Regions from separate parts of the Homo sapiens genome. Here regions 2 and 3 are each reported to be linked to region 1. The links are microRNA targets in miRTarBase. Many come from high-throughput screens and were not tested one by one. Region 1 holds a microRNA gene; each other region holds the end of a gene's coding sequence.
What was found. The annotated mature microRNA hsa-miR-4683 reads UGGAGAUCCAGUGCUCGCCCGAU and lies in region 1 at 2,254-2,276, shown strand. An mRNA with a match to its seed (bases 2 to 7 or 8) in the 3' UTR can be bound and repressed. Matches are read on the target gene's strand: a 7mer-m8 pairs with bases 2 to 8, a 7mer-A1 pairs with bases 2 to 7 and ends in A, and an 8mer does both.

Region 1 (3,248 bases):
AACCTGCCAGGCCGCCGGCCCGGGCCGCCCGCAGCCCCCCTCCCGGCCCGTCTTAAGGTGGCGGCGGAGCCGGCGGGGGCAGCGTTCGCTGGCGGTGGCCCAAGCGGCTGCTAAAAGCAGCCCGGGTCCGGCTCCGGCCTCGTGCAGAGAGCAGATACGTGTCGCGGAGTCCACGCCAGAGCGCAGCGCCGCCTCCCACCAGAGAAAAGGAGGCTCTGGCAAAAGCCTGTGAACTTGGGATGGATGAATAGACGTCCTGAAAGAACGAAGGGAAGACAGGGAATCCAGCCCCAGAGTTTCCAGCCTGTCCTATTTATAAGTTTCGAGGTTTGTTTTGAATTTTAGAAAGAAATTGAATGATTTTTCCTAAGAAAGCACGGCGGCTCGGGGCTTCCTATATTTTATCTCACCTAATTATCAAAGCCCCCTTGGAGATCTGTGCTATGATCACCCAACTCTCTAGGTGGGGAAACTGAGGCTCCCCCAGGTCACGCAGCGGAGGCGGGAGGAGAGTCTCTGGCGGGCATTTGTCCCCCGCGCCCCTCGCGCGCCCAAGGCTGGGCTCCGGGGCATCTCACCCGGGCCGTCCCGGGTCCAGCCCCAGTTTAGAATGACTCCACACCCCCCACATCTCCAAGTCTCAGAAACCATCGTTCTGAGAACCCCAAGGAGGACACCCTTTCCCGGGTCTTCTGCAGCGCCGAGCCCCGGCAGGCCTCCCCGGCGCTCGCCTGCTGCGAGACCTTCCTGCCGCCCCGAGGAGCACGAGACCCCAGCCGCCTGCAGATCACCCACATTTGCGGAGGGTGGCAGCAGGGGCTTGGCTGGTTTGAAACGCGCCGGGGAGGCGCGCGCTGCACCAAACCCCGTCCCTGTCCCCAAGGGCAGACTCGGGGTAAGGGGACCAAGACCTCCGACGCACTCAGCGCCATGGGGACAGCCATGGCCAACACTCTGTCTCTGCGGTCAATCCCAAGGTTACCAAAACTCTCCATCCGCAGAGAGCGCGCACAGCAGTGCGGACACTCGGGGACTGCCTTAAGGAAGGCTGAGCCCTGGGAGCGCGTGGACTCCGCCCTACCGCCCGGCGATTGGCTCGCGGGGCTGGGGGCGGAGACCGAGTCCGCGCTGTATAAATATTCATGAGCCGGCAGCGCGGCGCGAGCGGGGCTGGAGCCGGGAAGTTGGGCTAAGGGCGCTGCTCCCGCCGAGGAGGAGGCGGCGGCTGGGCGCGGGCCGCGCCACTCAGGTGTCCGCTCCGCCTTCCGGTCTGGATTTGCTCCTGGGTGTCCAGCAGGAAGGAGACTGTGTGCACCTCGCCCGACTGCGGCCGGAGCGCGGCGCTGACTTTTCCAGGCGGCGGGGGTCCGTCTGTCCCGGCGGCGGACGGACGAAGGACGGACGCCGGAGAAAGAGGGCGGCGGCCTGGGCCGAGGCGGGTCCCCAACTCCGGCGGCGGCGGCGGCGGCTTGGCCTTGGGGGCGGGCATGAGCCCCCGGGGGCCGAGTGGTGGCCGCCAGGGCTGACCCGGCGCGGCAAGCGGCCCGGCCCAGCCATCTTGACTGCGCACCGCGGCCCCAGAGGAAACTTGCGGCGCCTCCGCCCTCTCTGTCCGGCGGAGTCACCGCCGCCCGGCGCGGCGGGGAGAAGTGGTCGGGCGCGCGGAGAGGAGGCGAGCGAGCGCGGGACGATGAGCCGAGGCCCGGCCGCTCTGCGCCGCGAGGGCTGAGCGCGACCCGGGGCCAGCAGAGCGGACCTACGGACTGTGGCGCGCGCCTGCAGCCGCCTTCAAACCCCCGGAGCGGCGGAAAGGAGTGCGGAAGGGCCCTGCCCAGGCTGCGGGCCGCGCCGCTGCGGACGCGCCCCTAGAAGGGGTTAGATTATCGGCAGACCCCCCTCCCGGGCGAAGCATAAGGGAGACCCCAGATCACCCGCTGTACCCGTCTGCGGCTCTCTCGTGGGCCCCCCCCCCGGCACCCCTCTGCGCGCCGCCTGGAGGGCGAGGGCACCGGGCCGAGGCGCACAGCATGGAGTGGGGTTACCTGTTGGAAGTGACCTCGCTGCTGGCCGCCTTGGCGCTGCTGCAGCGCTCTAGCGGCGCTGCGGCCGCCTCGGCCAAGGAGCTGGCATGCCAAGAGATCACCGTGCCGCTGTGTAAGGGCATCGGCTACAACTACACCTACATGCCCAATCAGTTCAACCACGACACGCAAGACGAGGCGGGCCTGGAGGTGCACCAGTTCTGGCCGCTGGTGGAGATCCAGTGCTCGCCCGATCTCAAGTTCTTCCTGTGCAGCATGTACACGCCCATCTGCCTAGAGGACTACAAGAAGCCGCTGCCGCCCTGCCGCTCGGTGTGCGAGCGCGCCAAGGCCGGCTGCGCGCCGCTCATGCGCCAGTACGGCTTCGCCTGGCCCGACCGCATGCGCTGCGACCGGCTGCCCGAGCAAGGCAACCCTGACACGCTGTGCATGGACTACAACCGCACCGACCTAACCACCGCCGCGCCCAGCCCGCCGCGCCGCCTGCCGCCGCCGCCGCCCGGCGAGCAGCCGCCTTCGGGCAGCGGCCACGGCCGCCCGCCGGGGGCCAGGCCCCCGCACCGCGGCGGCGGCAGGGGCGGTGGCGGCGGGGACGCGGCGGCGCCCCCAGCTCGCGGCGGCGGCGGTGGCGGGAAGGCGCGGCCCCCTGGCGGCGGCGCGGCTCCCTGCGAGCCCGGGTGCCAGTGCCGCGCGCCTATGGTGAGCGTGTCCAGCGAGCGCCACCCGCTCTACAACCGCGTCAAGACAGGCCAGATCGCTAACTGCGCGCTGCCCTGCCACAACCCCTTTTTCAGCCAGGACGAGCGCGCCTTCACCGTCTTCTGGATCGGCCTGTGGTCGGTGCTCTGCTTCGTGTCCACCTTCGCCACCGTCTCCACCTTCCTTATCGACATGGAGCGCTTCAAGTACCCGGAGCGGCCCATTATCTTCCTCTCGGCCTGCTACCTCTTCGTGTCGGTGGGCTACCTAGTGCGCCTGGTGGCGGGCCACGAGAAGGTGGCGTGCAGCGGTGGCGCGCCGGGCGCGGGGGGCGCTGGGGGCGCGGGCGGCGCGGCGGCGGGCGCGGGCGCGGCGGGCGCGGGCGCGGGCGGCCCGGGCGGGCGCGGCGAGTACGAGGAGCTGGGCGCGGTGGAGCAGCACGTGCGCTACGAGACCACCGGCCCCGCGCTGTGCACCGTGGTCTTCTTGCTGGTCTACTTCTTCGGC
Region 2 (3,213 bases), not on the chromosome of region 1:
TCAGATAATCCAAACTAAGTTAAAGTAATAATTATCTTCTGGAAGAAAAGACTAGGAAAACAGATGACACATTTTCCGGAACATGAATGATGTAGATATGTTTGCAGTTTGGAATGCAGAAGTGATTGTTACTTGAGGATCAAATGGCAGGACATCAAGAATTCCTGTGTCCAGATCCACAGTGCTCATATCTTGTCCATTCCATGTTTAAAAACATAAGCTGTGATTTCAGGTTCAGATGATTCTCCTGGGATTCTTGAGTTTACCTTATCACTACATTGGAGAAAATGTAAGTAAGTGGAGAGGAAAGGTGGTAATAAATCTTTTGGTTTTCTTTTGCAGAAGTGGACTGTAGAAGAAAGCGAGTGGGTCAAGGCTGGAGTGCAGAAATATGGGGAAGGAAACTGGGCTGCCATTTCTAAAAATTACCCATTTGTTAACCGAACAGCTGTGATGATTAAGGATCGCTGGCGGACCATGAAAAGACTTGGCATGAACTGAAACAGGCTTTCATTTCCACAGAATTCACAGGAGCATGGTTCCTAATAATAGCCCCTGATAGTCTGCTCTTTCTTTCTTTTTCTTTTTTTTTTTTTTTTGAGACAGAGTCTCGCTCTGTCACCCAGGCTGGAGTGCAGTGGCGTGATCTCGGCTCACTGCGACCTCCGTCTCCCGGGCTCACGCCATTCTCCTGCCTCAGCCTCCCGAGTAGCTGGGACTACAGGCGCCCGCCATCACGCCCGGCTAATGTTTTGTATTTTTAGTAGAGACGGGGTTTCACCGTGTTAGCCAGGATGGTCTCGATCTCCTGACCTCGTGATCCACCCAACTCGGCCTCCCAAAGTGCTGGGATTACAGGCATGAGCCACCGCGCCTGGCATCTGCTGTTTCTTTCAGAAGCTGGGCTGGGATGAGAATTTTGGGCAACCTCCTTCGACGTGGGGGAGGTCCCATTTCCACTTCATCACTGTTGGAGATCATGGAGCTAAGAAGCAGAGCCAAGTCCACCCATGTCCTTGGCAGAGATGACAGGCACACAGCTTGTGCAGTGCCAGAATATCATTAGCGTTTCCCTTCTTTAGTGGTTTGCTTAAATTTAAATCCCTGGTAATCTGTAGAACCTTCTCCTAGGAAATGGTGAAGTCTATTAGGAGCCACTTGTGACTCCATGACCTGTTAAAACCAGCAATGTGAGTATTATTTGGAGTAAATTTGTTCCACGTCAAGTTCTGGCCTTCTGATGCAAATGCAAAGGAACTTAGTCTGTTATGAACCCAGGTTGATGACAGACCAGTCCTTGTGGAATAAGATTCCCTTTAAAAACTCTTTAGCCAGTCGTGACATCAACCCTAGACCTGTCTGCCTTGGCATTTGCTGTCAACATCTGCTGGGCTATGTAGGCAGGTTAATCCTCCACTTCTCATGTGGTTGAACCAGTGTGTTTTTTGGTAAAATGGTGATTGTAGATAAGATTAGTTCCCTGATCCCCTGCCCCCTGTCCCCTGCCTCTTTTCCCAATTCCCTTCCTTATGCTGGACTTTTAAAGCTTAAAAAAAATCCGATTGAATATAAATGCCTAATTTCATTCTTTGTGAAATGGTTGCTTCCTCCTGATTCCCTAATTGTGCTGTGTTCGTGTCTTGCACTGGAATTCAACATTCCCTTCTCCTTTTGTACTGTGTTGTGCTTGCTGTCTCTCCCGGACACCCTTAAAGACTGTCTTTTTAGCAAAAAATTTCAGTAAAGTGTTTTCTGTAATCTTTTTTTAAAAGGTGAGAACTAATTATTGTCCATACTTGTAGCATTCTTCATTAAAGTCTTGCTTCTCTCAACTGTAAGTAGCTGTTTAATTGCAGCACAGCATGTATCCACAGAGGGAGGTAGCAAAATGTTAAACTTTGCTGAACTATTTTGATCAAGAAGCTGATGTCAGACTTTATTGAATGTTTTAATCCTTGGAAGCTATGTCAAACAGATGATATGGAAGTTTCCTCTTAACCTTTCAGTTTCCTCATATATCATTTCTGGGGACAAAAGAATTCCCCCTTTCTCACTTCTGAGTGAGTGAAAGGCAAGGCTTAAAGAAATGCTAAAGTTTTAAAATTCATCCATTAGGCCAGGCATGGTGGCTAATGCCTGTAATCCCAGCACTCTGGGAGGCCGAGGCAGGAGGATCACTTGAGGTCAGGAGTTCGAGACCAGCGCGGCCAACATAGTAAAACCCTATGTACTAAAAATACAAAAATTAGCTGGGCGTGGTGGCGGGTGCCTGTAATCCCAGCTATTCAGGAGGCTGAGGCACAAGAATCGCTTGAACTCGGGAGATGGAGGTTGCAACGAGCCAAGATCATGCCACTGCACTCCAGCCTGGGCAACAAAGCGAGACTCTATCTCAAAACAAAACAAAACTGGCTGGGAGCCATGGCTCACCCCTGTAATCCCAGCACTTTGCGAGGCCAAGAAGGGTAGGATCACCTGAGGTCAGGAGTTCAAGACCAGCCTGGCCAACATGGTGAAACCCCATCTCTACTAAAAATACAAAAACTTAGCCAGCCATGGTGGCAGGCGCCTGTAATCCCGACCTCTCGGGAGGCTGAGGCAGGAGAATTGCTTGAACTTGGGAGGCGGAGGTTGTGATGAGCGGAGATGGTGCCATTGCACTCCAGCCTGGGCAAAAAGAGCAAAACTCCTTCTCAAAAAAAAAAAAAAAAAGTTTAAAATTAAAAATTTTGAAAAATACAAAATTAGCCAGGCATGGTGGCAGGCGCCTGTAGTCCCAGCTACTCGGAAGGCTGAGGCAGGAGAATCGCTTGAACCGGGGAGGTGGCGGTTGCAATAAACCGAGATCGCACCACTGCACTCCAGCCTGGGTGATAGAGTGAGACTCCATCTCAAAAAAAAAAAAAATTCATCCATTAGTTACAAGTTGGAAACTTCATACAGCTTTATTACCTATTAACTGCATTTTGGGGTTTAGTACCTATTGTTCTTCTATCAACCAACCCCAACTGAAACCACAGGGAGAAGTTGAGAACTTGAGCTCCTTTCAGGCTAGCCGCCTTCTGCCTGCAGCTGGTTTGGTCTCCCTCTGAACCGGATTAGAATCCAGAAGCTTTTCTCCCCTTAACTCTCATGTGAGTCAATGGTGCTCTCCAGGTAGAGGAGTGAAACTGATGCATTTAGGGAAACAAAATATCCTAATCAGTGTTTCTT
Region 3 (3,248 bases), not on the chromosome of region 1:
CCTAGCCCCAAGAACCATAATACATAAATTTATTTTCTTTATAAATTACCCACTCCCTACTCTGAGGTATTCAGTGATAGCAACAGAAAACAGACTAATACAAATAACCATCATTTAACTTAGGTTAATATAAGATTTTTAAGTTACCAAAAATTAAATATAAAAATATTTAAAAGTAGACATCTTGGCTAGGTGCAGTGGCTCACGCCCATAATCCCAGCACTTTGGGAGGCCGAGGTGGGTGGATCACGAGGTCAGGAGATCCAGACCATCCTGGTTAACACGGTGAAACCCTGTCTCTACTAAAAATACAAAAAATTAGCCAGGTTTGGTGGTGGGTGCCTGTAGTCCCAGTTACTCAGGAGGCTGAGGCAGGAGAATGGTGTGAACCCAGGAGGCGGAGCTTGCAGTGAGTGGAGATCGTTGCCACTGCACTCCAGTCTGGGTGACAAGAGACTCTGTCTCAAAAAAAAAAAAAAGGAGGTAGACATCTTATAAAAATATCAAAAATACACAAACATCACATAACATAAAAAAACACAAAAATAAACACATAAAAACACACAAAATACAAAGAAACATACATTGAAAACATATGGCTCTTTTCAATCTTCTTTTTCTTTCTTGTGTTTCATATATATCAAGAAATTTATCTTTTCCTTGTGCATTTTGTTCTTCAGTTGAATTTACAGTTTTATGATCTTAAAGACACATAAGTGTTCTTTTTTTTTGAGTCGGAGTCTCGCTCTGTCACCCAGGCTGGAGTGCAGTGGCACGATCTCGGCTCACTGCAAGCTCAGCCTCCCAGGTTCACGCCATTCTGCTGCCTCGGCCTCCCGAGTAGCTGGGACTACAGGCACCCACCACCACGCCCGGCTAATTTTTTGTATTTTTAGTAGAGACGGGGTTTCACCGTGTTAACCAGGATGGTCTTGATCTCCTGACCCTGTGATCCACCCACCTCGGCCTCCCAAAGTGCTGGGATTACAGGCGTGAGCCACCATGCCCGGCCACACGTAAGTGTTTTGATTAGTAAATCCAGGTAGAAGTTGTATGTGTGAACTGTAAATAATGTTGACAACTCTTAAGAATTGTCTGTTTTAATTAAACCAAGAAACTTAAACTAGCTTTCTATTTACTAAAGATTATCTCAGATCACGTGACCTTGAAAAACATTTAGATGGGCTCCAGTTTTTCTAAGAAAATGCTCCATTTATGGAAGCAATTCTTTTCTTTCTTTTAACCAAATCTTTGCATAGGTACCAAATAACACATTTGTTTAGGATGAGAGCTGCCCACTGCCCCCGCCAAAAAAAAGTACTTTTATATACAAAAGTCCAAATTTCCAAAGGTATATGTACTTTAATTGTGACTTGAACTCAAGGTAAATAAATTAAATAATTAATAAATTAACCTTAGCTTACTGGACGGCCACCATCTTATATGCTGTTCCCTTGACTGAAATGTTGTGGGGTAAATGACTATATATGAAATGGGACTTATTGGAGGAATTAATGCATCTGATAATGGAGGTTGAGAAGTTCCACAACAGGCCATCTGCACAGCAGAGACCCTGAAATGCTGGAAGCAGGACTTAATCCAGCCCAAAAACCTAAGACCCAGGGAAGCCGATGGTGTAATTCTTAGTTCAAGGCCAAAATCCTTAGATCCTTCGGGAGGCCACTGGTGTATGCCCTGGAGTCCAAGGGCTAGAAATCCTAGACTCTGATGTCCACAGGCAGAAGAGTGTCCCAGCTCCAGGAGATCAGATGGATTTGCTTTTCCTTTTTTTTTTGTTTTCTTCTATCTTGCTCCCCAGTCTGTCGGACGGTGCCCCCCCAAATTAAGGGTAGGTCTTTTCCACTCAGTCCACCCGATCGCATGCCAATCCCCTCTGGAAACACCCTCGAAGACATGCCCAGAAATAATGTCCCAGAAATAATGCCTTACCAGTGTTCTAGGTGTTCCTTAATCCATTCAAATTAACACCTCCAATTGACCACCATGATAAGGAAACACACGGAGGCCAGCTCAGGGGAGAACCAGATTTTCCTTTGGCATGTGAGCCTCAGTCGGGCAATAATTCTTTCAAGTTTATTTTATTTTATCTTGAGACAGAGTCTTGCTCTGTGTCCCAGGCTGGAGTGCAGTGGTGCAATCTCAGCTCACTGCCTCGTGGGTTCAAGTGATTCTCCTGCCTCAGCCTCCCGAGTAGCCGAGAATATATGCACACACCATCACATCCAGTTAATTTTTGTATTTTTTTGTAAAGACGGCATTTCACGATGTTGGTCAGGCTGGTCTTGAACTTCTGACCTCAAGTGATCCACCCGCCTCAGCCTCCCAAAGTGCTGGGATTACAGGCATGAGCCACTACACCTGGCTAAGAATTTACTTTGTATACATGTTAAAAAAAAAAAAAACCTAATATGTATTAACTCCTAACACCTAAGAGGAAACCTCTGGTAAAAAGAGTCTTTCACTCCAAGGACACGGCAGAGCCTGTGCCATCTTCTAAGTAGATGAACTTTCCAGAGTCCACCAAGAGGTCCTGAATCTTCTCTCTTGCATGTCTCTCTTCCATCCTCTCCAAGGCATCCAGCAGGGTGTGGATCGAGGCGTTCCGTCCAGTTTTGTTGACCCATTTCATCAGCATTGCATACAAGGCATCCCCTGGGCCTGCTGTACCAGCTCTGACCACATCGATCTCATTTTTCGTGAGGTCCAGCTGCCTCATGAGCTGGTCCCAGGAGTCAAAGGGCACGATGTTTGCAAACTTGTCAAAGAACAGCATCAGAGCTGGGTGGAGAAAGCCACAGAGACAGCCAGATGAGTTGGGACTCAGTTCAGAAGGGGCAGAGGATCCCACATCAGGCCCAGAACCCAAGGAGAGAACCTGGAGAGCCCCCTGCATGGGCAAACCTGTTGCTCCATTGCCCACCCACCTCCCATCCACAGAGAGCCCACCCACACTGCCTGGCCTCTGTGGCCCCCAAGGCGCTGACGGGCGTCAAGGTCACCAGAGAATCTGCCCTCAGAGAGGGCTGAGAACCCACCTGGGGAGGATGGATTGACCCTACGGAGGCAGAAAGCAAAGTGGGTGAGAGCCCGAGGGAGGGAGGGAGAGTGGCTGCAGCGGGAGCTCAGAGGATGCGGGCTGCCTGGGCTGCGCTTGTCATGGGAGCATGTCCCAGGGTGGCCACTTCTGCATCTGTGGAAAGTGCAGGGTCTGGGGCAGGGGACCTCTG

Region 2: the mRNA of TERF2 is a reported target of hsa-miR-4683. Seed matches in the 3' UTR shown: 7mer-m8 at 803-809.
Region 3: the mRNA of TNFRSF10A is a reported target of hsa-miR-4683. Seed matches in the 3' UTR shown: 7mer-m8 at 1,761-1,767.

What each region holds. Positions count from the first base shown.
Region 1 is chr10:35,640,209-35,643,456 of GRCh38, reverse strand. It overlaps MIR4683 (microRNA 4683), which reads left to right and starts at 2,205; the gene lies at 2,205-2,285. FZD8 (frizzled class receptor 8) reads left to right here and starts at 1,161. Exons shown (of 1, transcript NM_031866.3): 1 at 1,161-3,248. The coding sequence starts at 2,028. LOC124902528 (zinc finger protein 469-like) reads left to right here and starts at 611. Exons shown (of 2, transcript XM_047426128.1): 1 at 611-827; 2 at 1,044-1,729. The coding sequence starts at 611. The coding sequence ends at 1,729. It overlaps LOC105376494 (a long non-coding RNA gene), which reads right to left and starts at 142. Exons shown (of 2, transcript XR_930820.3): 1 at 1-142. RefSeq lists silencers at 2,613-2,702, 3,242-3,248 and an enhancer at 2,813-2,972.
Region 2 is chr16:69,354,186-69,357,398 of GRCh38, reverse strand. TERF2 (telomeric repeat binding factor 2) reads left to right here. Exons shown (of 10, transcript NM_005652.5): 10 at 343-1,832. The coding sequence ends at 501. Among named protein-coding and RNA genes, the nearest start is that of TMED6, 4.0 kb to the right of the region's middle.
Region 3 is chr8:23,189,215-23,192,462 of GRCh38, forward strand. TNFRSF10A (TNF receptor superfamily member 10a) reads right to left here. Exons shown (of 10, transcript NM_003844.4): 10 at 1,238-2,799. The coding sequence ends at 2,480. Among named protein-coding and RNA genes, the nearest start is that of TNFRSF10D, 27 kb to the left of the region's middle.